Regions from separate parts of the Homo sapiens genome. Here all the other regions are linked to region 3. Evidence: fine-mapped expression QTL. A gene starts in region 3. Each other region holds a variant in brackets. All regions are shown on one strand. Distances are between the middles of the regions.

The links. PIP is the estimated chance that this variant, and not a neighbour inherited with it, causes the effect.
Region 1: its variant is fine-mapped to the expression of MRPS27 in prefrontal cortex (GTEx, PIP above 0.99). The same link has a PIP of 0.9 or more in anterior cingulate cortex, cerebellar hemisphere, cerebellum, cerebral cortex, nucleus accumbens and skeletal muscle.
Region 2: its variant is fine-mapped to the expression of MRPS27 in fibroblasts (GTEx, PIP above 0.99).
Region 4: its variant is fine-mapped to the expression of MRPS27 in whole blood (TOPMed, PIP above 0.99).

Annotation. Positions count from the first base shown.
Region 1 is chr5:72,215,060-72,223,165 of GRCh38, reverse strand. It overlaps MRPS27 (mitochondrial ribosomal protein S27), which reads left to right. Exons shown (of 11, transcript NM_015084.3): 11 at 2,018-3,763. The coding sequence ends at 2,257. Among named protein-coding and RNA genes, the nearest start is that of MIR4803, 50 kb to the right of the region's middle. The variant T/C (reference allele first, on the strand shown) is at 3,377.
Region 2 is chr5:72,224,998-72,233,103 of GRCh38, reverse strand. It overlaps MRPS27 (mitochondrial ribosomal protein S27), which reads left to right. Exons shown (of 11, transcript NM_015084.3): 7 at 546-661; 8 at 4,736-4,838; 9 at 6,905-7,047. Among named protein-coding and RNA genes, the nearest start is that of MIR4803, 60 kb to the right of the region's middle. The variant T/C (reference allele first, on the strand shown) is at 3,566.
Region 3 is chr5:72,315,809-72,323,914 of GRCh38, reverse strand. MRPS27 (mitochondrial ribosomal protein S27) reads left to right here and starts at 3,675. Exons shown (of 11, transcript NM_015084.3): 1 at 3,675-3,766. The coding sequence starts at 3,694. It overlaps PTCD2 (pentatricopeptide repeat domain 2), which reads right to left and starts at 3,542. Exons shown (of 10, transcript NM_024754.5): 1 at 3,406-3,542; 2 at 1,651-1,743. The coding sequence starts at 3,532. RefSeq lists enhancers at 3,344-3,553, 3,614-3,943, 3,542-4,082, 4,083-4,624.
Region 4 is chr5:72,340,523-72,348,628 of GRCh38, reverse strand. PTCD2 (pentatricopeptide repeat domain 2) reads right to left here. Exons shown (of 10, transcript NM_024754.5): 8 at 5,593-5,667. Among named protein-coding and RNA genes, the nearest start is that of PTCD2, 24 kb to the right of the region's middle. The variant T/C (reference allele first, on the strand shown) is at 3,752.

The sequences.
Region 1 (8,106 bases), 100 kb after region 3:
CAGAACAGCCCTGAGCACTCAAGCTACCTTTGGTAGCTTCTAACTCTGTACATCCCAAAATGCTCTGTGATCAGTGTCAGGAAAGAACCGTGTTCAGTGTTTGAACTCTTGGCTTCTTAGCTGCTTTGATTCTTGTCTAGTGCAAAGGGGGAAAAAATGCTGTCAGAATGGGAATTCTTGGTACAGCAAAAAACTTTCCCACTTGTTTTGTGTAACTTGTGTCATTTTGGTACTGATAAGATGTAAACTTTGCTAGATTATTATGTTTAAATATTTTCAGTAATTAGAACCTAATTCCCAGTGTTGTAAGGAGGAGCCTGTTGTATTTTTAGCAGCAATTTCTCCCAGTACTTCTGTAAAGTCATTGCTCAACTTCCCTCTTATAATTTGAAACTGAGAAAGAAAGGTTAATCGATATTCCCAAGGTACCCAGAGAATTGGCAGTATAGCTGGGATGAGAATTTGCATGCCTGCCCCTTCAGGCTCTTTGCTTAATCTTGTGTATTTACAAAGGCTAAAGAAAAAAATCTCCTTAGCCCCATATATTATGATTCATTGCATTCACATTGACCAAGGTTGCCATACCATTCTTAAAAATTAAAACTTCCTTCTCTTGTTTCTTATATACTTTGCCTCAGAGAATAGAAACCTGTGCCTGCATTAAGTTCTCAGCCCTCATTCCTCTACAAATGTATTTTTATGAAAATTTTAAAAAGGCAAGTATTTATTGACTACTAACTACATGTTGGGCACCAGTGCATTTCTCCTCGCAAGAGCTCTGGATGCTAGAGACTACCTTTCTCATGTTAGATGACAGCAAAGCTGAGAAAAACTAGCCCAGAGTGACTGACTTTAGGTTTGAACAAAAGTTTGCCAACTCGTAGTTTAGTCCTCATTCTGGTGTCCCAAGCTGTCTTGTTGGCCTCAAACCCCACATGGAGAGCGTTGTCAGAGAGAGATCATTTTCGTTTTACATTTCCTTTTCTTCCTGTTGCCTGATTTTTATTAGTCAGAGGTCATTTGTTTGGGAGCCATTTTTATATGATTGACTCTCACACTAGGCCTCTGGCCCCTCCTGGAGCCTAGGCACCCTGCCCACCCCCAACCCTGTTAAGCAAGCCTCCTTTCCTGTGCCAATGAGTGGCATTTGTTTGTGGAACATGGGGATGTGTGGTATAAGCTACAGCTGGCCCCGTAAGTGGCCCTCTCTCTAATGAGAGAGTACATCTTAAAGTACTTAAATAGATTAATGTTTTTAATACTTACTTCTCCAGGAGCACAACACCAACCAAACCAAGGTGCCATTTCAGATGGAGCTGTAAGCAGGCAATACATAAAGACTGACCTGCAGTCTTAGAGTTCCTAAGACCCAATGCAGTGGAGCACAGCAGGCAGACGCTTCTAACGGTGCAGGCACTCAGGGGAGCTATTCCTTGAACTGATTTCCGTCTGTTGAGAGGAATGCCAGAAAGGCAAATACTTGTTTCAGTTATTCCGAAGGCACATGTATGGTTGGGCTTGCTCCAGTTATCAGATGCCTCTGCCATTTTGTTTGCATATTAGAATTCTTATTTTTGGTGTTTGCTGCTTGGTTTGGTTAGGTCAGGGTGGAAACATAGATTTGTTAGAGGCTGGCTGTCTTTGTGGTTTAAAACAAGAAATTACACAGGGAGACACAGCATATGGAGTTCCATTTACTGTTTTTGAGTGAAAGGGGAGAAATCACATGTGGTGCATCTTAGCAAAATTGCTGAGCTGAAAAAAATAACCACAGCTAACAGCACCTGAATGAAAGGCAGCATGACCATTTCCCAACAAAATGGTTTTTTTCTACCAGCAAAATGTGTGGTTATTTTGCAGGTGACTTCATTCTGGGCCACTAGAATGAGGACTAAACTACGAGTCAGCAAACTTTTGTTCAAATCTAAAGTCAGTCACTCAGGGCTAGTTTTTCCTCTTTGTATCTTTCTCTCACTTCTCTACCTTTCTTCTCATTTTTCCCATTTGTTTCCAACAGGCCTTACATTCTAAGCTTCAAGCTCTGGGCAAAATTGAGTCAGAAGGTCTTTTAAGTCTGACCACCCAGCTTGTCAAGGAAAAACTCTCCACCTGTGAAGCAGAGGACATCGCCACCTATGAGCAGAATCTGCAGCAGTGGCATCTAGACCTTGTACAGTTGATCCAGAGAGAACAGCAACAGAGGGAGCAAGCGAAGCAGGAGTACCAGGCTCAGAAAGCAGCAAAGGCATCTGCCTAATAGGGTCCCCCAGGGCCCCACCTGTCTCACAAGAACTTCACTCAACCCCGTGCCAGGACTCAGCAGTGGCCTGGACAACAGCCTCAGCTTCCTCTACCCATCTTCTTTTCTTAAAGCAGGCTATGTGCCCTACATGGCAAGGCACCATGACTGCCCATCGAGATGCCAAGAAGGGCTATGGAACTATGCAGGTGGCTAGTGGTCAGACTGAAGTCACCAGCTGAATACCTTAAGGAGGACTCTTGAGGCTCATAATGGAGTTCCTGGGGCACAGGGATTAGTTATGAGCATTAAAGTTCCTAAGACCCAGTGACAGTACTGGGAGAAACCAAGGCTGAAGAGTCAGGTTGAAGCACAGGCTTTTGTTTTTTGTTGTTTTTGTTTTTTGAGACAGAGTCTCATTCTGTCACCCAGGCTGGAGTGCAGTGGCGCAATCTTGGCTCACTGCAACCTCCGACTCCCAGGTTCAAGCAATTCTCCTGCCTCGGCCTCCTTTAGTAGGTGGGATTACAGGTGCATACCACCACACCTTTCTAATTTTTGCATTTTTAGTAGAGATGGGGTTTCACCATGTTGGTCAGGCTGGTCTCAACCTCCTGACCTCAAGTGATCTGCCCGCCTCAGCCTCCCAAAGTGCTGGGATGATAGGCGTGAGCCACCACACCCGGCCAAGCACAGGCTTTTGAATGGTCTCCCTCTCCCCAGCCCAGGTACATGAGGCCAAGGTGAACTGTGCATCCTGAGACCTTGTGTCCCTGAGTCTCCTTTCTGAGTGCAAGCTGCACTGTGAGCTGGCTGTGGGATACTCACACATTCCCACATTCTCCTTTCTGCCACATCTCGCCCTTCTGGACCTGCACTGGGAGAAATTCAGGACAGGAGTGAACTCAAGGCCATGAACTCACTGGATTTCCATTTTTAGGCACCCATAGGGATGTTTTTAGGATGTAAGTTTCTGAGGAGAAAGCTAGCTCTAGCATGAAGCTTTTTTGGATTGGCTTCTCCATCGTGTTGGGGTAACATTTTTTTTCCAATTTTTTTTTTCCCAAAACATCGTCTCAGCTCATTTATCAAGTAGGTAAAATGAGCCTTTTGTGTACACACAGAGGCACATGTGCA[T/C]GCACACACAACTTGTGAACACACATTTCTGTTAAAGAAGTTAGAAAATGAGAGATGGGTTGGGGCTTGAAGTGCATCAGAGGTATGAATGTTGTAAAACTGTCAGGAGATGTAAAATTCCTTTCTGAAGTGTCTCTTCTGTGAAAGGGTTCAGAGCAGATTTTGCTTACTATGTAGTGTTGCCCTTAAGTACAGTGGTGTAATTTTATTCAAGATTGTGCTCTTCTATCAAAAGCCTCTGGAAATAAATGTTCCGGGATCATGTTAGTGTACTCTTTATCTTTGGGGAAAGGGAGGAGGGAGAGGGACTCATTATTGTTACTATGATTTTGAGGAGTGTACTTTAAACCCTCCCCCATTAAACTATGGGATTTATTGTAATAATGATAACTGCCACCACTAATATTTATTAAGGACTTAACTGTAGGCTGAAAACCCAAGCAGCCCTATGAGGGAGGTACCAGTGTCCCCATTTTATGAAACAAAGCAGCTCTCCTGCTGCTCCTCTCCCTGCCTGTGGCCTCCATATAGAACCGCAGTAGTCAGGATCCAACACAGGGCCCTTTAGACTAGCAAAGCTGCTGAATCTTACTTAGGTAGAGGGCCGTGACCAAAAGTCAGTTCCAACATTTTGGTTTACCAACAACAGGAGTTTTTCAGCCACTCTCTCATTACATTAAGAGGAACATTCAACACAAACAAAAGGGCAACTTTTGCCCAGTAAATTAATGACTGTCACAACATGAAGTATCTGGTTAAGGCTTTGGCTCATCGTTTTGCCTTCATTTTTCCTCCCTCTCCAGCCCCAATGTACTTTACTTCTCTTCTTCACCAAAAGAGACCACTTCTGCCACTGTACTGTGGTCCCACAGGAATTTCCATGTTCCCTCCTCCTCAGGATTCCTTCCACACTTGTGCCCCATTTCTCAGGACTCTTGGAGTCTTTCCCCTCCAAATATTCTGCCCTTTCCCCATGTCCTTATCTCCTGAGCTATAGGATACTCTCCTGCCTTCCTTCACAATTGGCTCTTCCCAATACAGTTGTCCTTTGTCCCTTTCCCTGATGTCATCTTCCATATTTCTTCCATGTGGATGGAGAAACTGCTCTTGGTGCCCTGGCCTCTGGAGGTTACCTCAACTGGATCATCTCCCAGTAACAAATTACCTTCTGCAGCTGACCTGCCATAGTCACAGCCAAACCTCCAGCCTCATCACGAATCCGAGATCTTAGATCCTGAAGTCCCCACTCTCCCAGGCTCGTCTCGTACCATGACTGCTGCTGAACCAACTTGCTCTGTAATTTCCTGCCTGCTAATCCTTAGCCTTTACCCCATCACCCAAACTCTTGGTCTCCAGAATCTGCTTCTCTTCCAGTGTGGGCCCCATGGTCAGCCATCCCCATGTTCTCATTAGCATCTTCATTTTCTCTCACTCCCTTTATCTAGGCTCACTTGCCAGCCTTCGACCTACATCCTTGCACCCATCTATTATGGGTAGAATTGTGTTCCCTAAAAAAGGTAAGTTGTATCCCTAATCCCCAGTCCCTTAGAATCTGACCTTAGTTGGAAATAAGTTTGTACTGAGGTAATCAAATATAGAGTGAGATCATCAGGGTCAGCCTGATCCAATTTGGTGTTTTTTTAAAAGGGGAAATTTGCACACACAGACTCACAGAGGGAAGATGAGCATGTGACCGTACAGGCCCAGGAACACCAAGGCTTGCCAGCAAACACCAGAAGTTAGAAGGGGTAAGGACGCTTCTCCCCTAGAGCCGTCAGAGAAAGCTTGGCCCTGCAGACACCTTGATTTCTGAGTTCTAGCCTTCAGAACTGTTATTTTAAGCCACACCATTTTTGGTACTTTGTTACTGCAGCCCTAGGAAACTGATAACACCACCATTCATTTTCTCTTTGGTTCTGACTTACTAAGTGTAGATATATAAAGTCATAATATTAGGCTGATTAGATTCTTCTACAAAATTATGGCTGTTCTCTTCAACTCAATAGTCCTTCCTTTAATTGACTCTCATTTTTGCTTCCATAGCTTTTCTGTTCTGCGTTAGCTCGAAGCCCTGCCCTCAGAACTACAAGCAGATGTTCTCTCCATCATCCTTCCTACTTTCAAATAATAGGTATCCCCTCCCTCCTTTCAAAGCTTAGGCTCTTCATTTGTGACCTTGGCCCATACCTGCCCACCTGTTCTACACATTCAAGCATTCCCTTTCCGTCTTATAGCATCTCTGTTGATTTCTTCTTCTAAGTCTACAGTCTTATTCAAGACCTTATTCAACACTTTTTAACAGCAAAAAATCCTTTACCCTGCCATCAGTCAAGCTGTCATGCTATGTCTCCTTCCTTATGTCTCCAAACTTCTTGAAAGGGTATCTACACTTACTGGCTCATTGTTCATTCATTAGAGGCTGAGAATTTGGCTTATAGCTTTACCACTCTGCTGCACAACATGGTCATCAACTACAGTGATCTTTTTTTTTTTTTTTCCTTTTAAATGCTCTGCTCCATTTGGTACCACTGACCACCCCTTATAAGCTTGCTGTCTGCAGCAGACTTACTGTCTGTTCCAGCACTGCTTTCGCAAGCTCTCAAGTGTTCGGTGTATACTGTGTACAAGGCACTATACAAGTGCTATGGAGTTTACAAGGATGAATAAACTATAGATTTTACCCTCAAATAACTTAGATTCTAGTGAGGCTGGCACATCCACACCCGTCAATACACAGCTGAAAGGTGTCGTTAGACAAACAGTTAATGTATGTGGGAGTTCACAGGAAGATCACTTTAAGCCCAGTGATGGGAAAAACTCTAATGAAGGGAATTAATTGCCTGCTTTGTGCATTAATTAGTCACATATGAGTGCCTCAAGCTGCCCTGGGGTCCTCTTTCCACAGAGGCTTGTGTGATGTGTTCATGAGAAAATACTTTAAATTAAGCTAAAATGAACAATTCAGATTAAACTTGTTTTGGCCCACATCCCATACTTACCTTGGCCATAAAAAGGAAAAAAAAGCAAGGCGGTGGAAAGAAGAAAAGAAAGAAAAATGATAAGGTATTATCCTCCCCTCAGTGCTGTGTTGCCTTGGCACCCAGCCTTGCATCCTGTTTTCCGACCTTCTCGTTGGCTGTGGAATCAGGTAGGTGTGTGAGAAGATTGGTTTAGATTCTACAAGAAGTAGTCAGAGGCCTTGAAAATAAGTTGATTATACCACAGTGGCTCACACCTGTAATCCCAGTACTTTGGGAGGCCGGGCCAGAGGATCACTTGAGGTCAGGAGCTCGAGACCAGCCCGGCTAACATAGCAAAACTCTGTCTCTACTAAAAAATACAAAAATTAGCTGGGTGTGGTGGTTGGCACCTGTAATCCCAGCTATTCAGGAGGCTGAGGCAGGAGAATCGATTGAACCTGGGAGGCAGAGGTTGCAGTGAGCCAAGATTGAGCCAATGCACTCCAGCCTGGGCAACAGAGCGAGACCAAAAAAGTTGATTAAAACCTTTTTTCACACTGAAAACAATTAGTTTTGCCATTCTTTGTTGTCTTTACTTTTGTGCATCTTCCCTGAAAATATACTGCAGCATTCTACTTTTTTCTTTTTGCTGCAGGTATCTGATGAGCTTTGGGAAACTCTCTTATTTTAACCACTGAGGAAAGGAAAAGCAGCTGCTGTGGTGGAACAGAGAACTTAGAATTAGGTATGAAAAACATTTCTAGAAGCTCATTGTGTCACTTAGGCCCCCCAGGAAGCAGATCAGCATCAGAGTCAGAGGTAACAGTGAAAGCAGTTTTGGGGGGATAAAGCCTGTGAAAAATGAAAGGAGGTGGAATTGGGATTGGGTGAGGAAAGCCTTCAGGTGGAGGTCCTACATCTGCAAAAGGAAAGGAGGGAGGAAGCACCACCGCCTAGCCTCTATTGCTTGAGGGGGGAGATTTTCAACACCCATCATCCCTATTGCCAACAACACCAAGCATAACCTCCTTTTCTATTGTGAGTTCTAGTCTGCTACCAAACCTGGTGACACAGGTGCCTGCTCACCAGTGCCCTTCCCCAGTGCATTCCCAATGGCCTCGATGAGCGGCGTGCCACCTGGCCCTCGAGGGAACATAGTTCTCTGCTGGGTCTTCTGGCTTCCTGTGATATATGTATCCACTCCAGGAGGCTACCCTGAGACTTGTAATCCTTTTCTCCTGGATCTGCCAGGTCAATTCGGGTATTTCAGTGGTTCTCAGTTCAGGCTATCCCTTTCTCCAGGCTTTTTTTATGAGCCATTGTTGCAGCAAGTCTGCAACACCCCCTGGAGTGTTAAACCCCTTAAGCATTTTATGGATTCTGAATTAATTATTTAGAACTAATTGGTGAGATTGGCCCTAGACTTTAAACTCCATGAAGACAGGCACTCTGTGTGTCTTGTTCATGGTTGTGGCCCAACACACAGAACAGGCATTACCATGAGGAGGGGGCTTATAAACATTTATTGAATGAATTATTTTTTATTAGGTTAAAAGGAAAGTCCTCCAACTGAGGTATAATTCCCAGCAGAAATTCTGAGATGCTAGAAGCCGTATGTCCTAAGCTGAGGTAGTTTAATGCCAAAGAAAGCCTCTTTGGATTTCTACGAAGTGTAGTGTAAGCCAAAATTGACACCAGGAGGAAGGTTTGTGGGGAAAAAATAGGGGGGTGAGCATGGTGTATCATATCAGAATTCTCTTCTACATATGT
Region 2 (8,106 bases), 91 kb after region 3:
TCCTTTAGCATTTTGTCCTCTTCTGCCTTAACAGTGAGAAGGTACCAGAGCAGAGAATAGGGCAGTCAGACCAGCCTGTCTGCTCTGCCTGTCAGGGTGACCTTGAGAATATATGTGTCTCCTTTATGCCTTAGCTGTTCTAGCTGGTAGACATGATGCCTTAAATTTGCATCACAGTTTGAGCCATTTTCTGGTTGAACTGTCCAAAATTCTCTTGAAGTAGGTGAAGCAAATAGTATTTTATCATTATGACGATGATACTGGGAGCCAAGAGAAATGAGTGGTTTATTTAATGTCCTTCAGGACGTTGGTGCAGTAGCACCTGATTTAGTTCGTTCTGGTATGTAAAATAGAAGCTAAAGGCTGAGGAAAAACCTTGTTTGTGGAAGAACTAGGGCCAGAGCCTAAGCCCGCATATTTTACTTCTTAATTCTGCATTTTTTTAAACCATGCCCCACGTTTTAAGAGTGTTTATAGTTAAATAGAGATTTAGTAATATTACCTACAACTAATTTCCTCTCTTTTTTACTTTCATCTTCTGCTAGATGCTTTATCTGTGGTTTTTGAGGTCATGATGCAAGAAGCCTTTGAAGTGCCTTCCACCCAACTTCTCTCCCTCTATGTTTTATTTCATTGCCTGGCAAAGAAGACAGACTTCAGTGTAAGTGATCTTCCCTAAAGCAGTATTAAGAACTTTAGAAAAGGCAAGCAGGGGCTTGCTCTCAAAAGCTGGAAAAAGGTGTCTGCAGCTCTGTGGCCAGGCACAACCAGGAATGTGTGTTTATTGTATACATTTTGGTTACTGGTTTCTAACAAATGGAATTGGAGGTTCTTCCACTTGAGAGAATCTCAAAAGAAAGTCCTCGTGCATATTTTGAAACTTGAGCTAGGCTGAGTGCACCTCAGACATTCAGAAATGGGTCATTGGTAGTCACTGAGAGCTGGACATGGCATGTCAAAGAGGCAGTGAGGCAGCTAACGTTGACCATTACCTGGGATATTAAATACTAATTATTTCATTTGTATCAGTATTTTCCTAAGGTTTCTCTAGGGCAGTTCCGTTTTGGAAAGTCTAGAATATCAAGTTTTGGTTTCAGATCTTAGGTTCGCATGTTTAATCATTGCTTATTGTTGTCCTAAGAATAGCAATAGCAATAACTGATATTTTAAGTAGCACTTACTTTACACCAGGCTGTGTTCTTGTTTTAAATGTATTAATGCATTTAATTCTCACAACAACCCTAGGCAGATAAGGAGACTGGGGCCTAGAGATGTTACAGAGTAACCCCCCAGCTAGTAGGTAACGAAGCCACCTGGTAAAGCCAGTTAGTCTGCCTCTGCCATCTGCCCTTAACCTCAATTGTAAACATCAAAAATCCCAGTTTGGGTAGGAACTGAAGAGGTCATTTAGTCCAGACCACATTCTAAAGAGTAGATGGCATGTTATGCCTTTCTAAGATGAGTGTCATAGTCTTATGATATACCCCACATTCATTATTAATTCATTAAATATACTGTATTGAACACATACAAATTCCATACATTGGCAAGTGCTAGTTATGTACTGGTGAGCAAACATTTTCTGCTTACAATTTAGGAAGAACACAGAGTTTAAACAAAACAATCACAGAGATATAAAACTATGACTATCATGAACACTGCAAAGGAGAAATCTAAGAAAAGACTATATTATAGGGAGTTTTCTCTGTATTTTAAACTTAAATTGGTTAGGAAGGGCTTCCTTAAGGAAATATTTCTTAGGTTACTATTGAAGGATGACTGGTAATTAACTGGCTAAGGAGGGGAAGAACAGTCCAAAAAGAGGAAATTACATGTCCAAATACCCTGTGGCAGAAAACTTAGTGAGCAGAAATGGGCTGGAAGAAGATAGTCAGTGTAGTTACAACAGAAAATGGTAGGGAGGACGTGGGGTGAGAGGGTTGGAGAATGTAGGCCATACTAAGCCATTTTGTGTTCGTTCTAAAAACAGTGAGAAGCCCTTGAAAAGTTAGAAGCAGAGGGCATATAATAATCAAATCTGTGTTTTGATAAGGTCCTTCTGGCTGTACTGTGGATAAGCTATCAGAGCAGGGCAAGGATGGCTATGGTCAGACCATCCGAGAGACTACCATGAATCTCAGCAAGGGATAATGGTAGCATAGAGACCAGGATATGATGCAGTTAGAGAGTAGCCAATGGGCATATTTGGAAGGTAAATAACAAGATGAGGCAGGGAAGCAGGGGTCACATATTCTCTCCTCAGTTTCTGACTCATATGTCTGGATGCAAGGTGTTCCATGTGTTGTTTCCAAAAGGGAACTTTGGGAAAAGACTGGATGTTATGAGAAAAATCATTAATGTGACTCTGAACATGTTGCATTTTGAAATTGAGACAGTCACGAGATTTCACCAAGGAACTGGGGGCTTAATGGAAAGATCTGGACTGGAGATACAATTGTGGAGACTTATACTTCCATGTGTAAATGTTTGCAAATGAGCTAGAAAGCAAAAAGAAGGGAAATCAGGAATGTGTTGGACCACAGAATCCACAGGAAGAGATGGTCTGCTATGTAGAATGCTTCCAAAGGGGTAGGGTAAGATGAGGAATAAAAAAAGTCAATTAAATGCATTAGTGGCACGGGAGGCACTAAATCGTAACCTTTGTTTCCATATGAGTAATGGAGCAGGAAACCAAATTGGAATGGATTGTAGAATGATTAGAGGTATAGACAACTCTTTTAAGATGCCTAGCTATGAAGTGGAGAATAAAGCGGGGAAGTTGGGAGAATGAGGATTTGCTTTGTATTAATGGAAGAGGCAAAGCATAAAATGGAAAAACTTTGAAGGCATTGATGAAACCACACCTGAATTAGTCCATTATAGTGTCTACAATAGAAATTAAAGGCTTGGGCCAGGAGCAGTGGCTCATGCCTGTAATCTTAGTACTTTGAGAGGCCAAGGCAAGAGGATTGCTTAAGGCCAGGAGTTTGAGACCAGGCTAGGCAACATAGCAAGACCTCATCTCTACAAAAATTGAAAATAAAAAAAATATTAACCAGGCATGGTGGCACATGCCTATAGTCCTAGCTACTCAGGAGGCTGAGTTGGGAGGATCCCTTGATCCCATAAGTTTGAGGTTACAGTGAGCTGTGATCACACCACTGCATTCCAGCCTGGGCAATAGGGCAAGACCCTGTCTCCAAAGAGAAAAAAAGAAAAGAAAAGAAACTAAAGGCTTGGAAGATATCTGTTAATTTATGTTGACACATGAATAGCTTCATATAAGCAGCAGTAGTTCCAGCAGCCCCAGACAATGATCAGAAAATTTCTAAGACAGTCATTGGTTTGTTTTCATTCATCTTTTTTGAAGTCCTTTAGAAGTATAACCATCCCAGTCACTGTCACCACCCCTGCTCGACTCCTAACACATCAAAGGTATCTAGTGCTTAGATATTTTAGTGTTCATTTGGCTTTAACCCCTACTACAGCCTGTTACTGTAGCTCATGTTTTTCCCTACAGGGGGAAAAATGTTTGTAAGGCTCCTTATTTATTATTTGTCGGCCC[T/C]ACTTTTCATGCAGTTTTAGGTGGGGAAAATCAAACTTCTTAGTTTTGAAAGTAAAATGACCTGGTTTTTAATTACCAGCTCTTTTATTTACCTGTGCTGCAGAAGTGCTTGGGGGGGGGCGTTGTTTTTCTTCTGAGGTCTTTGCTTTTCTCAAAGACTGGGGAGCAGCCTCAAGAAATGACACTTGTATTGCACAAAGCCTACTTACAGTAAAGAGGTTTGGGTGCCTATGAACATCTGGGGTGCCTCACTTGCCCGTGGTTGTAACTGCAGCCTGCAGACATTATTCATTCTCTGCTTCCTCCCTAATCTCTTGGTGCAGAGACCAGTGCAGGGCAACCTGAGCTTAGTGTTCTATGTTTTGAAGCCAGAGTTAGGGCTCCAGCTCTGTCCACTGTGTACTCATGTGGCACCAAGAAGATCACAGATCCCACTGGGGAGTTGCCAAGGCTCTCCCCTGGCCGCATTGCCAGGAAGTCCTCCAGTCATCGTTGTTACTAGTCTGCAGCAGGTGTAGCAATGCTTGTGTTTTTGCCCTTTGTTTCCCCCATGTCTCTAAAGACTTCATTTTCATTAAAGCGTAATTTTGCACCCTGGGCTGAAAGAAGCGATCACTGTTTCTGACTGCCTAATTTGTTTTTGAGAAGCACAAATCTATCTAAAAGCAATTTAATAGTGGTATTTATTCTAACACTCTGAAGGAGTCTTATCATTGCTAAATTCTTTAAAATTCAAAAGCTTGTTCCATCAGGCCACAGCAGTATGAGTGACTGTGGGGCTGACAGCATGTTGAATCTTGATTGTCTCGAGTGTCGGTTTAAAGTGTACTCTTTATTTGTGTTTTGTTTTGCTTTTCTGATTGTAAAAGAAACGCTTATTCATTGCCAAATTTTTGGAAAATAATAAGATATACAGGGAATAAAACCAAAATTACTCATAATTTCACTGCCCAAAAATCCATTAACATATAGGGTATTTCTTTCCTATATTTTTCTTTGACGTAAGTACCTTTTAATCCCAAAATTAGGATTATAATGTATATATAGCTTTGTTCTTCTTTGTTTACTTAATGCTATAACATGTTCTTTTCCTCATGTCATTGAAAGTCACATTTTTGTATAAAGTACTCATTGCTTAGATGGATCATGATCCAGTATATTCTGTTGCAGTGGGAAGAGGAGAGGAACTTTGGTGCATCCCTTTTGCTTCCAGGCCTAAAACAAAAGAACTCAGTGGGTTTCAGTTCCCAGTTGTATGGCTATGCACTTCTTGGTAAGCTAAATGATCCTTACAAATACTGTTCTTCATGGTTAGAATTGTTGCATTCTTCCAGTTCATAATAAAATTGTAATTTGATTTAAATTTACCAGTGAAATCCAATTAGCCTTCGTTTTTAGACATAAAAATAGACCTTGATGGCCTTACAGTTACTCCATAAGAGAGTAAAGAGGGTTCTTAAAACCTGCCATCACTGGCAAAGCAAGAACTAGTTCTGGTGGATATAGGTAATAATATTCAGTGGTAATCAGTCTGAAGAAGGGATAAAGAAAGGGATGTTCTGGCCCTGTTTAGGGAGACTAGCTAGTAGAATCTTTTCCAGTATTAACAAAGATCTTTCTGTCTCTTTAGATCTAAAGTCCAGAAGGTAAGAAATTAAGAGTTAGAGTTGAACTTGTATCTTTGGTATTGTTTTCAGGTAAGGGAAGATAAACTAAGAGCAGAAGTAGTAGCACTTCAGGAAAAGTGGAGTGGTTCATGGGTACCATGTGATTGCACCAGGAGGTGCAGTGGTGGCTTTCCTCTTGTGCCCTGATTGCATTGAAAATCAGACAGGTTAAGAGGACAAAGCCTTCTGAAGAGTGGCCTCGGAACCTGGGTTGTGTGGAATCTGGGTAAATAAGATTCAACCTAAATGTAACGTCCCGATTTACAGACGTTTATTAAATTTATGTTATTTCATTACTCTCCCATCGTCTCTTAAGTAGTTAGGCATCTCTCAATTATACATTGCTTCTGCTTACCTTTGTTTTTTAAAAATCATAAAGTTATAGCAGTTTGACTGCTTTTGAAGTTGATCTTTGCCAACAGAATGTAGTGTGTTATTCTTGGTGCTGATTCTGATATAATAACTCAGGAACTTCAGAGTTTATTGACTGTCTATCAGACTAACAAAGGAGTTGACCACTCTTTTTAAAAATAATTTTTTCCTTATTTGCCACCTACTTTTGATATTGATTTACATGTATTTTCCTTTGCTTTCAGATCAGCATTCAGGACTGTCATACAGCCTGAATTGGTCAGAAGTGACAGGGCAAAGAATATGTACTTTGTTGTGGTTTGTGAGCAGAGGCCCTGGTTCTTTGTGATAGCAGCCATCAGATCAGAAGCTCTTTGCTCTCATTGTGTCATTTGCCGTGCAGCCTCACTCAGCCCTGATGGAAGCAGCTGCCCAGAATGTAACTGCAGTCCAGCCCCAAGCACCTTAAAGGTCTAAAATTAGCTGTCGCCTGATAAGCTTTGTCTGTTTGTGTCCTACTCTGGCTTTCCCAAATCCTCCTTCCCAGGAAAGATAAAAGAAGGTGGATTTAAGACTGGGCAGCTCAAGGTGACTTTGGTCATTAGTGCAGCCAGGTTCTGTGCCACAGGAATACAGACAGCCATCTCCCTACCAGAAGACCCTGCTGTCTAGCATCCACATCTTGAACTCCAGGTGTGATGGCTTGAGGTACCCAGAGAAACATTCATGTCCAGAGATCCAAAAAGATCATGAGAACTCTGTTATTTTAAAACTGACGAAACTCAAAGGAAAGAAGGGAAAGATGAGGGGTTTTTTTTTTTCATAAGGATTGGGTGTTTTGAAGGATTTCAAAAAATGACAGACATTTCCTAGCAGGGAAAGTTGTCGGATGTTGACAAAATTTTCACAGTGGGAAAGCTGTGAGATTTCTTTTTCTGGGGAAGATTTTGTTCTTGAAACAAAAATTGTATCTCAGTTGACTTGTTTTTTAAGAGTATCCTTACCTAGAGCCATATATGTCAGCCTCTCAATTGCCCTCAGCCCAGTGGTTTATATATACATCCTCAGCCCAAATGAGAAAGAAGAAAACTAAGTTCATGTAATTTTGCATTACAAAATGGATACAGTGAATTTTACCACATTCGTCATTATCCATCTGAAGTGTCACCGAATGAGATGAGTCTGTTGGTACAGATTTAAAATGATCCTTCTCTATTTCTAGTGCTGCCAGGTGAACATTCACTTGGGCCTTCAGGTCCTCAGTCTTAGAAATGGTGGGAAGACATGGCTGAGCATTCTTTATTGTTCTTTTTGGCCACAGGGAAGGTGGAGTTGCAGCAAGGGCTACGGGCTGTGTACCACAACATGCCTCTGATATGGAAACCAGGCTACCTTGACAGAGCCCTTCAAGTGATGGAGAAAGTGGCTGCCTCCCCAGAAGACATAAAGCTGTGTAGAGAAGCGGTATGTTCTTCAGCTCTAAGGCAGTGAGATTTAGCCATCTGTTTCCCATAACCTGAGCTTTAAATTTGTTTTCATTGTCTTTCCACTACCCCTACTTTCTATATGTCTATAGAATAGGTATTTATCAAGTCGAAAAAATGCAAAACCACAAACATTTTCAATGCTCCTGACCAAAGGCACTAGAAAATATGATTAACATTGATTTATAGTTCATTGTCTAGGAAAAAAAAACTATTCCACTGCCTCGTCCCTCACCTCCTTACCAAAAAAAAAAAAATCTCAGTGGGAACTCAAGAGAGGGTAAAATTTCATTTTAAATATGTTTGGTGTTTTTGTAATACCATGTAGTCCTGAGAGGCTACATAGCATCTTTCCCCATAAAAGTCCTCAAGAAATGAATCTGGGGACCAGAGATGGAACCATCTTAAACCATTCTGTGTGAATGTGTGATGCTGATGAGATCTCGGTCAGATGTTTCTTTCAAAGTTCTAAGGTGTTCACTTTACCAGGACGAGAACACTACTCTCCCACCAGCCCCAAAGCTCATGCCTCTTGGTCACCTAGGACCCTTGATGGTATGAGGTTGCTCGAACTCCAGGAGACATGATGCGCCTTACACCCCACAGGCAGCTGCAGTGTCTGCTCCTGTCCAAACAGCTTTTACAGCCAGTGTGAGTCCTGAGAAGGACATTGGTTGTCTTGTTACCATGGCTTAAAGGTCACCGTAGAGCCACATATTTGTTTTTTCTTGACTCTGGTTGCTAGAGTCATCCCTTGGCTTTCATTTCAGTCCTGAGGTGGTCAGGTCTGGTGTCTGTCCTGTCACCTTATACTTATGTCTAGTGAATCATTATGCTCTTTGCCAGACGTTTATAACAAAGGATATACATTTCTCACTATACTTGTTTTAACCCTGCTGTAGTCAGTACTGGTAATTGAAAACACAAAATTATACATAAATCCTTTGCCAGGGAAATATTCCTTCCAATCTCAGCCAGATTTGCATTCTTTGCATTCTAACAGTAGAAAATGAGTTCACATGTCAGCAAGAATGTGCTA
Region 3 (8,106 bases):
TTGTACTTTAGGAGACTGAGGCGGGATACTAGCTTGAGCCTGGGAGTTCGAGACCAGCCTCAACACAGTGAGACCATCTCTACAAAAAAAAATTAAAAATTAAAAATTAGGCGGTATGGTGGCACTGTAGTCCTAGTTACTCAGGAGGCTAAAGCAGGATTGCTTGAATCCAAGAGTTTGAGGCTGCAGCGAGCTATGATGGTGCCAACTGCACTCCAGCCTAGGTGACAGAGCGAGACTGTCTCTTAAAAAACAAACCAAAACAAAGAGAATGTTAATGTGTTAATCAGGAGCTCACAAACATCTGGCAGTGAGAGGAAGGAGAGCTGGGTCTATGGTTGAAAAAGTCAGTAGGGACACCAAGAGTTATTAAAAAAAAAAGGAAAGTCTTAGATGTGTTCATAAAGGAGGATCAAGGAGGTATATCCACAACCCCCAGGGACCACTGCTGCATCCACACACAATAAAAGGTATGAAATGCTGGGAAGAACTCTATGTGCAGGAGGGAGAGAATGAATGCACAAGATTTTTCAGGTGCTGAAAGGGAAAAAGACCTAGGGTGGTGTTCTTGTTTGTAGCTTTTTATAACAAAAATTTTCAAACATACCCAAGAAATGAAAGAACAGGATAATAATCCCCCTCACTAAGTGCCATTACCCAGCCTCAATCATTATCAATATTTTGCTAATTATGTTTCCTCTACACTACAATCCTCAAACACACTGGATTTTTTTTCAAAGCAAATCCCAGATTTATCTTTTTTTTGAGACAGGGTCTCACTCTGTTACACAGGTTGGAGTGCAGTGGTGTGATCATGGCTTACTGCACCTTAGACCTCCCAGGCTCAAGCAATCCTCCCACCTCAGTCCCTGGAGTAGCTGTGACTACAGGCATGCACCACCACGCCCAACTAACTTTAAAAAAATTTGTAGAGATGAGGTCTACGCTGCTCAGGCTGATCTCAAACTCCCTGGCTCAAGCAATCCTCCTGCCTTGGCCTCCCAAAGTGCTGGAGTTACAGGCATGAGCCATCATGCCCAGCCAAATCCTAGGTTTGGTAGTCAGGTTTCTCTTGTTTTTTAAGAAATTTTTGATCCTACTGACTTTTCTAGCACAGAGTGAAAAATACCAAATGTATCATCACACATAGTACTGTTTTGTTTCATTTGATTTCATTTATATATAGATATGTTTGTGTGTACTGAGATGCAACATAAAATGCATTTTTCACTGAAGGTTACATCAAAAAGTTTGAAAGCCAATCATCTGAAGTTTTTAAACTTTATTGTGCATATGAATGATCTGGGGCCTTTCTCTCTGCACTTCTATCAACCACCCAATAGATGCTGATGCCGCTGGTCCTCAAACCTCACTTTTAATGGCACAGATTTAGACAAGACCAATCGCAGCACTAGCTTTAATACTTCTCTGGGATCGTAAGAGAAGGAATAAGAGGAGAGCTGTAGACGTTGTAGCAGCAAAGTATGAAATGCAAGATAAATATAAGAGTTCACTATGAAACTAACAATAAATGGTCTCAACTTTTTCTAAGGCATAATAAAGTCACTGAAGGAGACACTGAATAGGGATAAAGACAGAGAAACTTAAATGACAGATAAATGACAGAATTAACAAAATAGATTCTATTACCTTTAGTGCCAGAAAGATTACATGCAACAGCCACTTTCTTTTGTTGAAATTCTTTTAATTTCACCACATTATCTGTAAGTAGGTATCTTTTAGCTAAAAATCAGAGAAAGAAAAAAGTAAAGTCATTTTGACTGTTTTAGAAGTTAGCAAATAACATGAATAGAGCTGGATTACCTCTAACATCTATTATAGATAATCCATTAGACAGGTACAAATATAACTGTACAAACTGTACAAATATAAATCCTGGGAAAAACAATTTCTGAACTACCAGAGAATGCAAATCCTCAGCAAAACAGGTTTTATTTGTGTGTGTGAAAGAAGCTAGTGATTAACCGTAGCTAGTGATAAACCTGTGTGGGGACTGGTTGACAGGAAGTTGGGATTTGAAGTACAAATGGGCATTTGCCATCGGTTAAGGGTATCAAGGGCATTTAAAAAAAAAACTAATAACATTTAAATGCAAAACAGGCATATTTAGTTTTGGTTTATCCAGGGAGAAGCACAGTGTAGTGGAAAAAGCTGCAGCATGACCACTGGAACTCCCAGTTTTGTCCTCTGTGAAATGAGGGGGTTAAGGCCTCTCAGATGTGGACTCAAAATACATTTGAGATACATGGAAATCATTGATCACAGCTTAGTAGATTTGGGAAACATCATCCTTTCTTTAGGATCCTTGGCTGTGCATGAGATAAAACGGACCAAGCGTGGCCGAAGAATCACGCACTAACAGAGTTCTGTGAGCTGCAGTAACAAGGTAACAATAAAAGTTGCTATTTATTTACAGAAAGGCAGTCCAGTGAAGTGGTTAGGAGCAGGTTTCTATTGTTGGGTGTGTTCAAATCCCACCTCTAACAGTTCCCTCTGACTTTGGGCAAATTACTTAACCTTGTTCCTCCTCTGTAAATGGAGAAAAGAATGGTACTTCTCTTGCTGGGTGTTGTCTAGAGAAAAGGAATTAATGTATGTAAACTACATTAAAGTAATGCCTGACAAACATTTTTACTATCACTCACTAGCATCTTCAGATTTAACTCTCTTCATAGAGATGTTAGAGGATAGTTTTGAAAAATGAAGAAACGTGCCGTTAAGTCTTTTAGATTGTTAGCAGAACTGAGACTCCATAAGACCTCTGCTTCCAAACTCTGCAGAAAAGAAAAAGGCCGGGCGCGGTGGCTCACTCCTATAATCCCAGCACTTTGGGAGGCCGAGGCGGGTGGACCACGAGGTCAGGAGTTCGAAACCAGCCTGGCCAACATAGTGAAACCCGTCTCTACTAAAAATACAAAAAATTACCCGGGCGTGGTGGCGCACGCCTGTAGTCCCAACTACTCGGAAAGCTGAGGCAGGAGAATCGCTTGAACCCGGGAGGCGGAGGCTGCAGTGAGCCGAGATCGCGCCACCGCACTCCAGCTTGGGCGACAGAGCAAGACTTCGTCTCAAAAATAAATAAATAAATAAATAAAAGTCACCCAAGGCGGGAGGGATGTTCCTGAAGACGAACGTCGCCCCATCTGAGGGAGCACTACAGCCCCAAGGTCAATACCCCAGCAGTCCTTCGATTTGCAGGCACTGGGGGTATCCACGACCCCCAGTGGTCACCACTGCACCCACGTGCAACTAGAGGGCGAGGGTGCGCTCCAGGCCAGTGAGTGACTTAGGAGCTGTGGCTGCTCCACAGAGATGCTAGCTGGGATCTAACACTCCCTTCTCTCCCATCCCTCCCCTCCTTCCCTAGGCTAAAGCCGCGGATACCTCCGAGAGGGCAGCGGCAGCTGACAGAGCCGGAGCCTCCCACCCCAGGATACACCAAAATCTGCAGCGCCTGCAGGAGAACTCGATTCGAGGGCCGAAATGCAGCAGCCATACTGTCTCGGACCATACCAACTACTGGAACCGGGGCGAGGAGGCGGAGCGTCGGTCCTGTCGTCGAGAGCGACAAAAGGGATTCGTCCAATTCTGGGCGCCCCGAGAGGTCGAGCTGTAACCCCGCCCCTTCCTCTGTCCGTAACCCGTTGGCTGTTCCTTTTGGTACGCTCCAAGATGGCTGCCTCCATAGTGCGGCGCGGGATGCTCCTGGCGCGGCAAGTGGTTCTTCCTCAGCTCTCTCCTGCAGGTTGGCCGGACAGCTTCATTAGGCCCCTGATTATTCTGTTTTTTGGGTGAAGGGAGCGGTGGGCTTTCAAGAGGAGAGGAAACGTTTCTGGAATCTGATTGCTAGGGACGCCATTTGGGGTGTTTGGTAGTGCAGAAGAAGGAGACAAGGTATCTGATCCATTTCCTTCCCTAAAATAACAGTATGTTCCTGTCCAAAGGTACGAAGAGCAGTGGAAGGTTATATAGCATGAGGGAATTTGCGTATGATTCGCCAGATTTATGTGTTGGGGTGGTCGTGCTTTTGCTGACCACGAAAAACCCAAATGTGCGCCGGGCGCGGTGGCCCACGCCTGTGGTCCCAGCACTTTGGGAACGCGAGGCGGGCGGATCGCCAGGAGTTCGAGACCAGCCTGGCCAACAGGGCGAAACCCCATCTCTACTAAAAAATACAAAGAAATTATCTGGGCCTGGTGGCGCGCGCCTGTAATCCCAGCTACTCGGGGGGCTGAGGCAGGATAATCGCTTGAACTCGGGAGGCGGAGGTTGCAGTGAGCAGAGATCGCGCCACTACACTCCAGCCTGGGCAACAGAGCGAGACCCTGTCTCAAAAAAAAAAAAAAAAAAAAAAAAGGAAAAACCTAAATGTGTCCATTCCTGGGGCTGGGACATTTTTCTCCCATCTGAGGTTTCTTTAGAGGGACGTCAGATAAACATTTTTCCCACCACCACACATTTAGCTGGACCCCTGGTCTTCGTGGAAGAATTTTTCAGTATTAATCTCATTTTATCTGATGACCTAGAGCACAACTTTTGATTGACCTTTCTTTGCTATAGTTTTCCACGTGTAGATAATAAATGCTATTAGTTACTTGTAAAATACTTTGATATCTGAACTAAATGGCAGCCCACTCAAAGCCTGCATAGTGGATCTGATAATGAAAACATTGGAAAAAAGTTTTAAAGTATTTATAGAAGCCAAATTTGCAGTGATTCTAACCACATAATCCAGACAGACATATTTGATAAAAATGCAATAATCACACTCGATTTTTCCATTGCCGCTTATCTTCCCTTTCCAACCTACCTCCCATCCTCTATTTTTTTAAAAAGCACGCACTTCTTTAGGAACAGCCATTAAACGTCAATGTGAAACCTCAGAGTTGGCCACCAGTTTTCTGAAGATTAAGTGGCTGACCTGGTGAAAACGTTTAATGTCACACATTAGGCAGTGTTATGCACAACGCTTGACACCTTAGTAAGAATTAGCTGTTGTAGCTATTTTCTGTTTATGTGGTTTCCGTGAACAACTACACACAGAGGGCATTTTGGGAGACCTGTCTTTCCCCACAATCACCTCCCCAGCCTTTTTTTTTTTTTTCGGGTTTCGTTCTTGTTGCCCAGGTTAGAGTGCAATGGCACGATCTCGGCTTACTGCAGCCTCTGCCTCCCGGGTTCAAGTGATTCTCCTGCCTCAGCCTCCCGAGTAGCTGAGATTACAGGCATGCGCCACCACTCCCGGCTAATTTTGTATTTTCAGTAGAGACGGGGTTTCTCCATGTTGGTCAGGCTGGTCTCTAACTCCTGACCTCAGGTGATCCACCCGCCTCTACTTCCCAAGGTGCTGGGATTACGGGCGTGAGCCACTGTGCCCAGCTGGCCCAGCTTTTTAATCTCCCAGTTCAGAACTCTTGAGCAATGATCTAGATATTGTCCTGACTCCAGAATGTAGAAAGGTGATTACTTATGCTAGAATGAAGCATATGCTAGAATGAAGGCATAGAGAATAACAGATAATAAATAGAGAGTAAGCAAGTAGCTGGTATGCGGGAGTACAGTTGGCTTCCTTATCCGAGCATTCTGCATCTGCAGAGTCAACCAACAGCGGATCAAAATACTACAAAACAAAACAAAAACTAACAATAAAAAATAATACAACAGTAAAATAATACAAAGAAAATACAACATGACAACCACTTACATTGCGTTTACATTGTGTTAGGTATTATAAGTAATCTACAAATGACTTAAAGCAGCTTGTCCAACCCTCAGCCCAGGACAGTTTTGAATGTGGCCCAACACAAATTTGTAAACTTAACTAAAATATTAGGAGATTTTTAGCATTTTTTGTTTTGTTTGTTTGCCCATCAGCTATCATTAGTGTTAGTGTAGTTTATGTATGTGTGGCCCAAGACAATTGTTCTTCTTCCAATGTGACCAGGGAAGCCAAAAAAATGGACACCCCAGCTTAAAGTAATGCAGGAGGATGTTTGTGGGTTATTTGCAAATACTGTGCAATTTTATGTAAGAGACTTCTGCATTCTCAGATTTTGGTATTTGAGGGGGTATTCTAGAACCATCCCCCTGGGGCAGGAGAATTGCTTGAACCCTGGAGGCAAAGGTTGCAGTGAGCCAAGATCATGCCACTACACTCCAGCCTGGGCAACAGAGAGATACTCCATCTCAAAAAAATAATAATAATAAATAAAATTAGGCCGGGTGTGGTGGCTCACACCTGTAATCCCAGCACTTTGGGAGGCTGAGGTGGGTGGATCACCTGAGGTCAGGAGTTTGAGACCAGCCTGGCCAACATGGAGAAACCCTGTCTCTATTAAAAATACAAAATTAGGCGTGGTGGCGCATGCCTGAAATCCCAGCTACTCAGGAGGCTGAGGCAGGAGAATCGCTTGAACCTGGAAGGCCTCCGCCTTCCGGTTGCAGTGAGCTGAGATCATGCCATTGCACTCCAGCCTGGGCAACAAGAGCGAAACTCCATTTCCAAAACGAAAAAATAAATGGAAATTAATTTAAATAATTATAGTCTTTTCTTAGTTCTCCTTTTGAAAGCGTCTTTGGAAACCTTATTGTTGCCTCATTATTTAATTTGTAGAACTCAAATTTAGATATATTATTCTAGTAAAGATCTGTGTTCACAGTAAGAGAATGAACTGTGTATAAATTCACACAGATGTGTTTGTATTTGTTTATTTGTTTGAGCTGGAAAGTAGGTAGAGAATAAAAACAGCATTCCAATACTGTGTTTAATCAGCCCCCATGCTATCTAGTTGTGTTGGGCTTTTGGTCTGCTGTGACCTCAGCATAATTATCTGTCATTTTTTCTGTTTGTTTTTTTTTTTTTTTGAGACGGAGTTTCGCTCTTATTGCCCAGGTTGGAATGCAATGGCGTGATCTCGGCTCACCACAACCTCCACCTCCTGGCTTCAAGGGATTCTCTTGCCTCAGCCTCCCAAGTACCTGGGATTACAGGCATGCACCACCACGCCTGGCTAATTTTGTATTTTTAGTAGAGGCAAGGTTTCTCCATGTTGGTCAGGCTCGCCTCGAACTCCCGACCTCAGGTGATCCGCCCACCTCGGCCTCCCAAAGTGCTGGGATTACAGGCATGAGCCACTGCACCTGGCTGTTTTTCTATTTTTTTAAACAGAGTTATTGAGGTATAATTCACATGCCATACAATTCATCCATTTAAAATACACAATTCAGGCCAGGCATGGTGGCTCACGCCTGTAATCCCAGCACTTTGGGAGGCCAAGGCTGGGGGATCTCCTAAGGTAGGAGTTCGAGACCAGCCTGGCTATTATGGTGAAACCCCGTCTCTACTAAAAATACAAAAAATTATCCAAGCATGGTGGCAGGCGCCTGTAATCCCAGCTACTCTGGAGGCTGAGGCAGGAGAATTACCTGAACCTGGGAGGTGGAAATTGCAGTGAGCCAAGATCACACCATTGCACTCCAGCCTGGGCAACGAGCAAAACTCCATCTCAAAAACAAACAAAGAAACAACAAATGCAGTATACAATTCAAAGGTTTTAGTATAAACACAGAGTTCTGGAGCCATCATCACAAGCTATTTTAGGACATTTTCATTATCCCAAAAAGAAATTCCATGCCCATTTGCAATTGCTCCCCATTTCTCCTCTAGCTTTCCTGATCCTCACCTTTAGCCCTTAGCAACCATGAATCTACTTTCTGTCTCTACAGACTTGCCTATTCTGGATTGCTCATATAATGGAATCATATAATATGTGGTCTTTTGTGACTGGCGTCTTTTTTACTTAACATGTTTTCAGGATTCACCCATGTAGTATGTATCAGTACTTCATTTTTTATTGCCAAATACTATTCCATTGTAAGGATAGACCACATTTTGTTTATTCATCAATTGATGGATATTTGGGTTGTTTCCACTTTTTGTCCGTTATGAATAATACTACTGTGAACATTTGTTTACAAATTTTCTGTGGACACAAGTTTTCATTTTTCTTGGTTGTAAACCTAGGAGTGGAATTGCTGGGTGATAGAGTAACTCCATGTTAACATTTTGAGGAGCTACCAAATTCT
Region 4 (8,106 bases), 25 kb before region 3:
TAAAGAGGGTCTATGTTTGAGATTGAGAAGTTTAAATTCAGACTGAAAAGGCAGAGTCAACATACATGTGTTTTGATGAGATCTGTTAAATCATTGCAGTATGTATCACGTATTAGCTGGGAAAATAGGAAACTGGGCCCTCTGGGTCACACTGGCAACAGGAGCAATTTAATAAAACAATCAAGTCAGGGAGAAAATTTGTTAAGTTCAAATTTCAGTTGACAGTAGCAAAAGATTTTAGCATAAAGCATTAATTTTTAAAGTATATCAGAAAAAAGTTTCATTGATTTCTGTGAATACTGACTAAACAGACACTACTCAGCCTATCTGTCAGTTTCCATCTCTCAATAATTAATAAGCTGCCTTTAAGGATTTCAAGTAGATGAGTCAGCCTTGGAGAAGCTAAGGTCCATGCAGTCATTTTTTAAAATGTGCTCTACTAACAGAGACCTAGAATCTAAAAGATTACTAAACTTGAGAATGGCAACCATATCTTTTTCATCATCCCCGAGGAAGATGACATAGGCTTATATTGCAACATGAGAAATTTGGGTTGAACATTTGAAAGAATTTCCTGAGAATTTTTAAACACTGAAACTATCTTTAAGTTTCCCGACAGTGGGTAATTCTGTGACGCAGTTCAGAGAGGATGATTCATACTCAGTATCACTTCAAAGTTACTTATGGAGTCCTTGCCTGAAACACGCCCATTCCACTGCATCCATAGGCTGACTTTCCTTTCTAGCCCTCAGAGGAAAGGAGCTGTTCCTGCTGCCTGGTGGGCAAGCACACACTTTTTTCATCATGCCCTGCATTGCTCCTCTTATTGGGAATGGACAGCCTCATGCTCAGCAGGCTCATGTTTAGCTCCACCAAAGCACCTTCTCATTTGGGGGAAAAAAAAAAAATCAAATCATTACTAGATTATTTTTGTTGTTGTTGGAGGCAGAGTCTCGCTCTGTTGCCCAGGCTGGAGTGCAATGGTGTGATCTCCACTCACAGCAGCCTCCGCCTCCCAGGTTCAAGCAATCCTCCTGCCTTAGCCTCCCAAGTAAGCCAGGATTACAGGCACACACCACCACGTTCAGCTAATTTTTGTATTTTCAGTAGAGATGGGGTTTCACCATGTTGTCCAGGCTGGTCTTGAACTCCTGACTTCAAATAATCCACCCACCTCAGCCTTCCAAAGTGCTGAGATTACAGGCATGAGCCACCGCACCCAGCCCATTACCAGATTCTTGTAACTGTGAGAGATAGGCCACGATGGAAGGAGATGAGAAATCTAAATCCAGAGGTGGCTTACATGCACTAGTGGGATCATGGTTTTTGACATCCAGTCTTGTGTTCTTTTTATTATTCAAGAGGAGCCACTAATCCCAGTCCTGGATAAAAGAGACGCACCTTTTTCATCTCTGTAGGTCTGGAGTGGCGGGGAAACCCTAGGCTTCGCAGTCAGACAGAGTTGTTGGTGTTAAAACCCTGACTCTGCTATTTATTTAGTTGGGAGAACTAAGGTAATTTACTTACCCTTGAATCTTCATTTTCCACATCTATAATGTGGAGAAAAATTGTTTTGATAGAGTTGTATAACAAATCTAAAGTACCAAGCATGACACCTTAGATAAATTAAAACCTGCTTACCTCACTGTTTGATTTCTTATCACCAATTCTTACTGAAACCCTCAACCTTGCTTCAATTCTAGGAAAAGTGATCAATGATCCAAGTAAAACACTTCTCCCCCTTTTCTCCTTTCTTTCCTTCCTGATGTTATCAGAGACTTGGATAGCTTTAGCTTTAGTGGAAGAGTATCTTGCTAATCCCAGCAGTTCTATTCTGTCCCATCATGATAGATGGGACATCTGAAGGCCATTCTCTCTCTCAGAAGCAATTATATACTGGAATACCAGAGCTGTCCATATCCAGTAGGAAGCAGATAAGTCAGAGACATAGTATGCCTGCTGGAAGACCAGGCTTCCCAGTCTGTTTAGCTTACTGGTATCACTTGCTCAAATGACCTGACCTTCTGGACTCTGGACCTTTGCCAACCTTGGCCTCCCAGACCTGCTTTAGCGTGTGAGCTTTTCAGGCTGACCCACCTGCTCAGACCTGTAGTTTCTGCTTCAGCCCCCAAGATGAACAGGAGCTACCTGCAGCAGGCTAAGACAGGGAGGGCTCTCAGCCGCTTGGATTTCTACACAGCTGCAAGTCCTTCCCTCTCTTTTCTGGTGCTTCCTCTGCCTCACCATTAATGCCTTATAAACTCATTTCTGAGCCCTCATACTTCCCTGCTTTCTTATGGCATTCATCAGTTCATATCAAATCCATTACCAGGTGTATATAGTTGAGTTCATGCCCTCCAAGTTTATGCCCTTTGAAACTAAAATGTCTCTGTCGATATTTTTCTAGTATTTTGTTTCTTCCATTACAAACCCATTTCATTTTTTCAAGTTCTCTGTTATCACTCTCTCCATCTTTCTGGTTCCTTGGGCTCACCTTTCTCTCATGTAAAAGCATTTTGAAAAGTAAAGTTGAGGTCCAATATGAGGAATTCTTATTGCACACTTCTTGCCTGACCTTGTTCTCCAAAATTTACCATAAATACTCATCTAGTCATTCTCTGAAAAGTCACCTGGGCACTGGTGTGGGATGACATTTGAGGATAACTACTATGGGCAGAACTGAAAAGCATTATTATCTTTAAGTATGACTCTTTCAGAAGTTTGGAGTTATGCATAATTCCTATTCACTAGGTTCTAGGATTCAGTACAAATGAATATTCCTTTTAATTTAACTCATGTCAAAAAAATACTATTAGTATTAGCAAATATTCATTGAACAGACTACCTGCCAGGCACTATGCTAACTATTTTATATGCATAATTTATTTTAATCCCCACAACAAAAAGATAGCAACTATTTGTTGCAGGAAGTCAGGAACCCCAAATGGAGGGACTGGCTGAAGCCATGGCAGAAGAAAATAAATTGTGAAGATTTCATGGACATTTATTAGTTCCCCAAATTAATACGTTTATAATTTCTTATGCCTGTCTTTACTGTCTTTACTCTGAACATAAATTGTTAAGATTTCATGGACACTTATCACTTCCCCAATCAATACCCTTGTGATTTCCTATGCCTGTCTTTAATCTCTTAATCCCGTCATCTTCTTAAACTGAGGAGGATGTATGTCGCCTCAGGACCCTGTGATGATTGCATTAACTGCACAAATTGTTTGTAGAGCATGTGTGTTTGAACAATATGAAATGTGGGCACCTTGAAAAAAGAACAGGATAACAGCAATGTTTAGGGAACAAGAGAGATAACCTTGAACTCTTACTGCTGGTGAGCTGGGCGGAACACAGCCATATTTCTCTTCTTTCAAAAGGAAATTGGAGAAATATCACTGAATTCTTTTTCTCAGCAAGGAACATCCCTGAGAAAGAGAATGCATCCCTGAGGGTAGGCCTCTGAAATGGCCACTTCAGGGGGCAGCCTTCTTTTATGGTCGAAGCTGTAGGGATGAAATAAGCCCCAGTCTCCCGTAGCGCTCCCAGGCTTATTAGGACAAGGAAATTCCCACCTAATAAATTTTGGTCAGACCGGTTGTCTGCTCTCAAACCCTGTCTCCTGATAAGATGTTATCAATGACAATGCATGCCCGAAACTTCATTAGCAATTTTAATTTCGCCCTGGTCCTGTGGTCCTGTGATCTCGCCCTGCCTCCATTTACCTTGTGATATTCTACTACCT[T/C]GTGAAGCACGTGATCTCTGTGACCCACACCCTATTCATACACTCCCTCCCCTTTTGAAATCACTAATAAAAACTTACTGGTTTTATGGCTCACGGGGCATCACGGAACCTGCCGACATGTGATGTCTCCCCCGGACACCCAGCTTTAAAATTTCTCTCTTTTGTACTCTGTCCCTTTATTTCTCAGACTGGCCGACACTTAGGGAAAATAGAAAAGAACCTACGTGACTATTGGGGGCAGGTTCCCCCAATAACTATTACTGTTTCAGATCAAAGGAAATTGGGGGGTTTCCAGGGGCAAATTAACCTAAGGACTCAGAGCTAGTAAGAGGTGGTTACAATTCACAGTTCATATTCTTTTTTTTGAGATGGAGTCTTGCTCTGTCGCCAAGGCTGGAGTGTAGTGGCGCAATTTTGGCTCACTGCAACCTCTGCCTCCCAGATTCAAGCAATTCCCCTGCCTCAGCCTCCCGAGTAGCTGGGACCTACAGGCAAGTGCCACCATGCCTGGCTAATTTTTTGTATTTTGGTAGAGATGGGGTTTCGCCATGTTGGCCAAGATGATCTCGATCTCCTGACCTCATGATCCACCTGCCTTGGCTTCCCAAAGTGCTGGGATTACAGGTGTGAGCCACCGTGCCCAGCCACAGTTCATATTCTTTTAAATAGATGCTCCACCAAAACCAATATCCCAACAAATAACACCCTCCACCTCATTCCCTCCAACCCCACAGTCCTGTCCTCCTCTAGAGCACTGCTCAGTAGGTTCCCGCCCTAAGGGCCCCTCACGTTGCTCCTGCCGGCCAACCCGACCCCCTTCATCTACTCATCTTGGAATACTCCATTGATTGTGACTTGTTTTCCTAGTTTGTGTCATGCTAATGCTTACACATTTCCATTTTTCTGAAAATGTTTTCTTCATCTCAACCCTCTGACTGTTTCAGGAGACTATAAGCTCCTGAAAGTTTTTTTCTTTTGCAACTCCCCCCACACAAGTAGACACAGTATACAAGGAGTCTCAATATGGGCAGGCTGAATGGGGGCTATGGTGTCCTTAATAACAAGACAGTCTTTTATAATTGGTCCAGGAAGGTTTTGTGACACACTGCTCAAACTCTGGGAGTAGTAATATGCCTCAAACTTTATTATTAGCGTGAATCTGGTGAATCTGAGATAATTTTTTTTCCTATGCTTTTAGTTTTAGGGATTAAGGTTTTGCATGTCTTGGTGATATGTGTGCAGCCACTTGCTGACCCAGACCACAAGGTCCCAAATAAGTGACCCAGGTGGCCCAGGTAAGTTAATGGGGAAGAGGACCATGGGCATACTGGCAACATAATAAGAATGACAATAGATAACATTTACTGAATGCTTACCACATGTCAGGCACTATTTTGTGTACCATAAGTATATAAGCTCATTAATTGCAACAATGCCATGAGTTAGGTACTACCAATAAGACGCAGTTGGCACATGGGTTTCTCTCAAGGCTTGGTAAAGGGCCTGGAGGATCTGTCTCCATCCCCTCCTCCTCCCTACATCTACAGCTTTCTTAGCCACGTCTCATGTCTTCAGCATCTAGCCATGTCTTATATATGAGCATATCTACCTCTCTCCAACCTGTTTACAAACTCCTGGAAGCGACAGCTGTGTTGACTCTTCTTACAAGGGTGATACTGTAATTTTCAGAGAGGAATTCAATAAATGACTATTGATTTGAATGAAAACCTTGGGAGAGCAAGTCATTGTATACAGCTAAAAAATTTAGGTATAATTTTATTATAATACATTTATTATAATACATTTCAAGGCTTACCTTAAACCATAAAGAAATCACTTACATTTAAATTAATGCAGGCTATGCTTTCTGGATTCATGATTTGAGAAAAAATGGACACAGCTTTTGCCATCTCATTCTAGAAGGAAGAGAAACAAATCATATTCCATATCATAGGAACTAATGTTATTGTAAAAGATCACTTAGAGAGGGCAGTATATTCCTATTAAGGTGACCTCAGGGTTTTGAAGTCCACAAAGATAAAATGTTTCGGAAATCAAAACTAAACATTCCATAAAATTCTCCATCCAGTCGCATATTGTTGAATGTTTTAACAACCTGCCTGAGTCCAGTTTTTAAGATGCAGGCATAAAGTTGGTATTTCCCCTTCTCCTATTGGAATCAGCTTCTAAAAAAATAGGAATGAAGAACAAAGTGCAAAGCCTGTCTTTGACATACATAATTAGAACATAGAAACCTCAAGCCACAGCACAGCTGGAAACACTGCCAGAAACATTGGAAATGGAGGCTGGCAGGGTTCAGGAGAAAGCAGTCAGAGGCAGACAGTGCTCTATATCTCACAAAGAATCTACAACAGTACAGCTCTCAAAGGTAAGGGCACAACCTGAAGTACAAAACCTAAATTCCTATTTACAATGATGAGAACAGAGCGCAGGACTAGTAAAGAGAACTTCCGTGGATCCTGTGGTGGCAGAGATGAGGCTAGTCAAGCGTTTCCATAGGCAAGACATACTCATAGGAAACAGTATGTTCCTAAGACAGCAGCAGCAGAGAAGAGACTGCGTACCAAAAACCACCTCAGTGCCTACTTCTGTTGACTTAAAAGAAATGAGGCCTGTGCATACTTGTAGACAAAACTCTGGGTTATATGAAGAAAAATCCTGCTAGTCTAGAACAGTGCTCTGGTGTCCCGCTCTGTTGTTCTCTCTTTCTCTGACATGAATCTACAAATGACCGGTCTAAAAGAAACACGTTTTTCTTTTATTTTTGAATTTTTATTTTTATTTATTTATTTTATTTTATTATTATTTTTTTTAGACGGAGTCTCGCTCTGTTGCCCAGGCTGGAGTGCAGTGGCATAATCTCAGCTCACTGCAAGCTCAGCCTCCCAGGTTCACGCCATTCTCCTGCCTCAGCCTCCAGAGTAGCTGGGACTACAGGAGCCCGCCACCATGCCTGGATAATTTTTTTTTGTATTTTCAGTAGAGACAGGGTTTTACCGTGTTAGTCAGGATGGTCTCGATCTCCTGACCTCATGATCTGCCCGCCTCAGCCTCCCAAAGTGCTGGGATTACAGGTGTTAGCCACTGCACCTGGCCAGAATTTTTATTTTTTAGAGACAGAGTCTTGCTCTGTCACCCAGGCTGGAGGGTAGTGGTGGAATCATGGCTCACTGCAGCCTCAAACTCCTGGGCACAAGCTATTTTCCTGCCTCAGTCTCCTGAGCAGCAAGGACTACAGGCATGTACTAGGTACTACTGCACCTGTTTTATTTATTTATTTATTTTTTGTAGAGACAGGGTCTCCCTATGTTGTCTTGGCTGGTCTCAAACTCCTGGCCTCAAGTGATCCTCCCCCCTTCCAAAGTGCTGGGATTACACGCAGGAGCCACAGTGTTAGGCCTGAAACTTACACTTTTCAATGATGAATAGTCAAAAAAGAACCACCACATGACACTCATAAAGATGATATTTTTAAAAAGAGGAAAGGAACACAGTAGAACAAAATTAAGAAAATAACTGGTACAGTGGCTCACGCCTGTAATCCCGGCACTTTGGGAGGCTGTGGCGGGCAGATCACTTGAGGTCAGGAGTTCAAGACCAGCCTGGCCAATATGGTGAAACCCTGTCTCTACTAAAATACAAAAAGCAGCTGGGCATGGCCAACATGGTGAAACCCTGTCTCTACTAAAATACAAAAATTTAGCTGGGCACACGCCTACTAAAATACAAAAATTTGGCTGGGCGCATGCCTGTAATTCCAGCTACTCAGGAAGCTGAGGCAGGAGAATCACTTTAACCCAGGAGGCGGAGGTTGCAGTGAGCCGAAATCGTGCCACTCCATTCCAGCTTGGGAGACAGAGTGAGACTCTGTCTCAAAAAAAAAAAAACAGAAAAGAAAAGAAAATAACTGGCCGATGAAGAAACCCTAATTGAAAAATATTTCCATGGATATAGAAGATAGAAATGAGAAAAATGAACAACATCACGTCAATCAAGTGGAAAAAAATCAGGCAGGCGTTAGATTTCTCCACATTCCATACTAGATTTCTCCAATATTCCATACTAGAAGACAGAAAAGCAATGCCTAAAAGTACCTCAAGAAAAGAAAATGTCACCTTGAAATTGTAAATCTGGCCAAACTGTAGTTCAAGTACAAAAACAACAGGCAAATAAAATAATTTAAAATACCAAGAACTCAGGGGATATCATTCCTCCAAAGAATTTACTAAAATACTCACTTCAGCCAACAAAGACAAAACTGGAAAAACAACTAGCACCAAACAACCTATTTAACTATACAAAGGACTCAAAAGTTGGGAGTATGGCTATAGTAC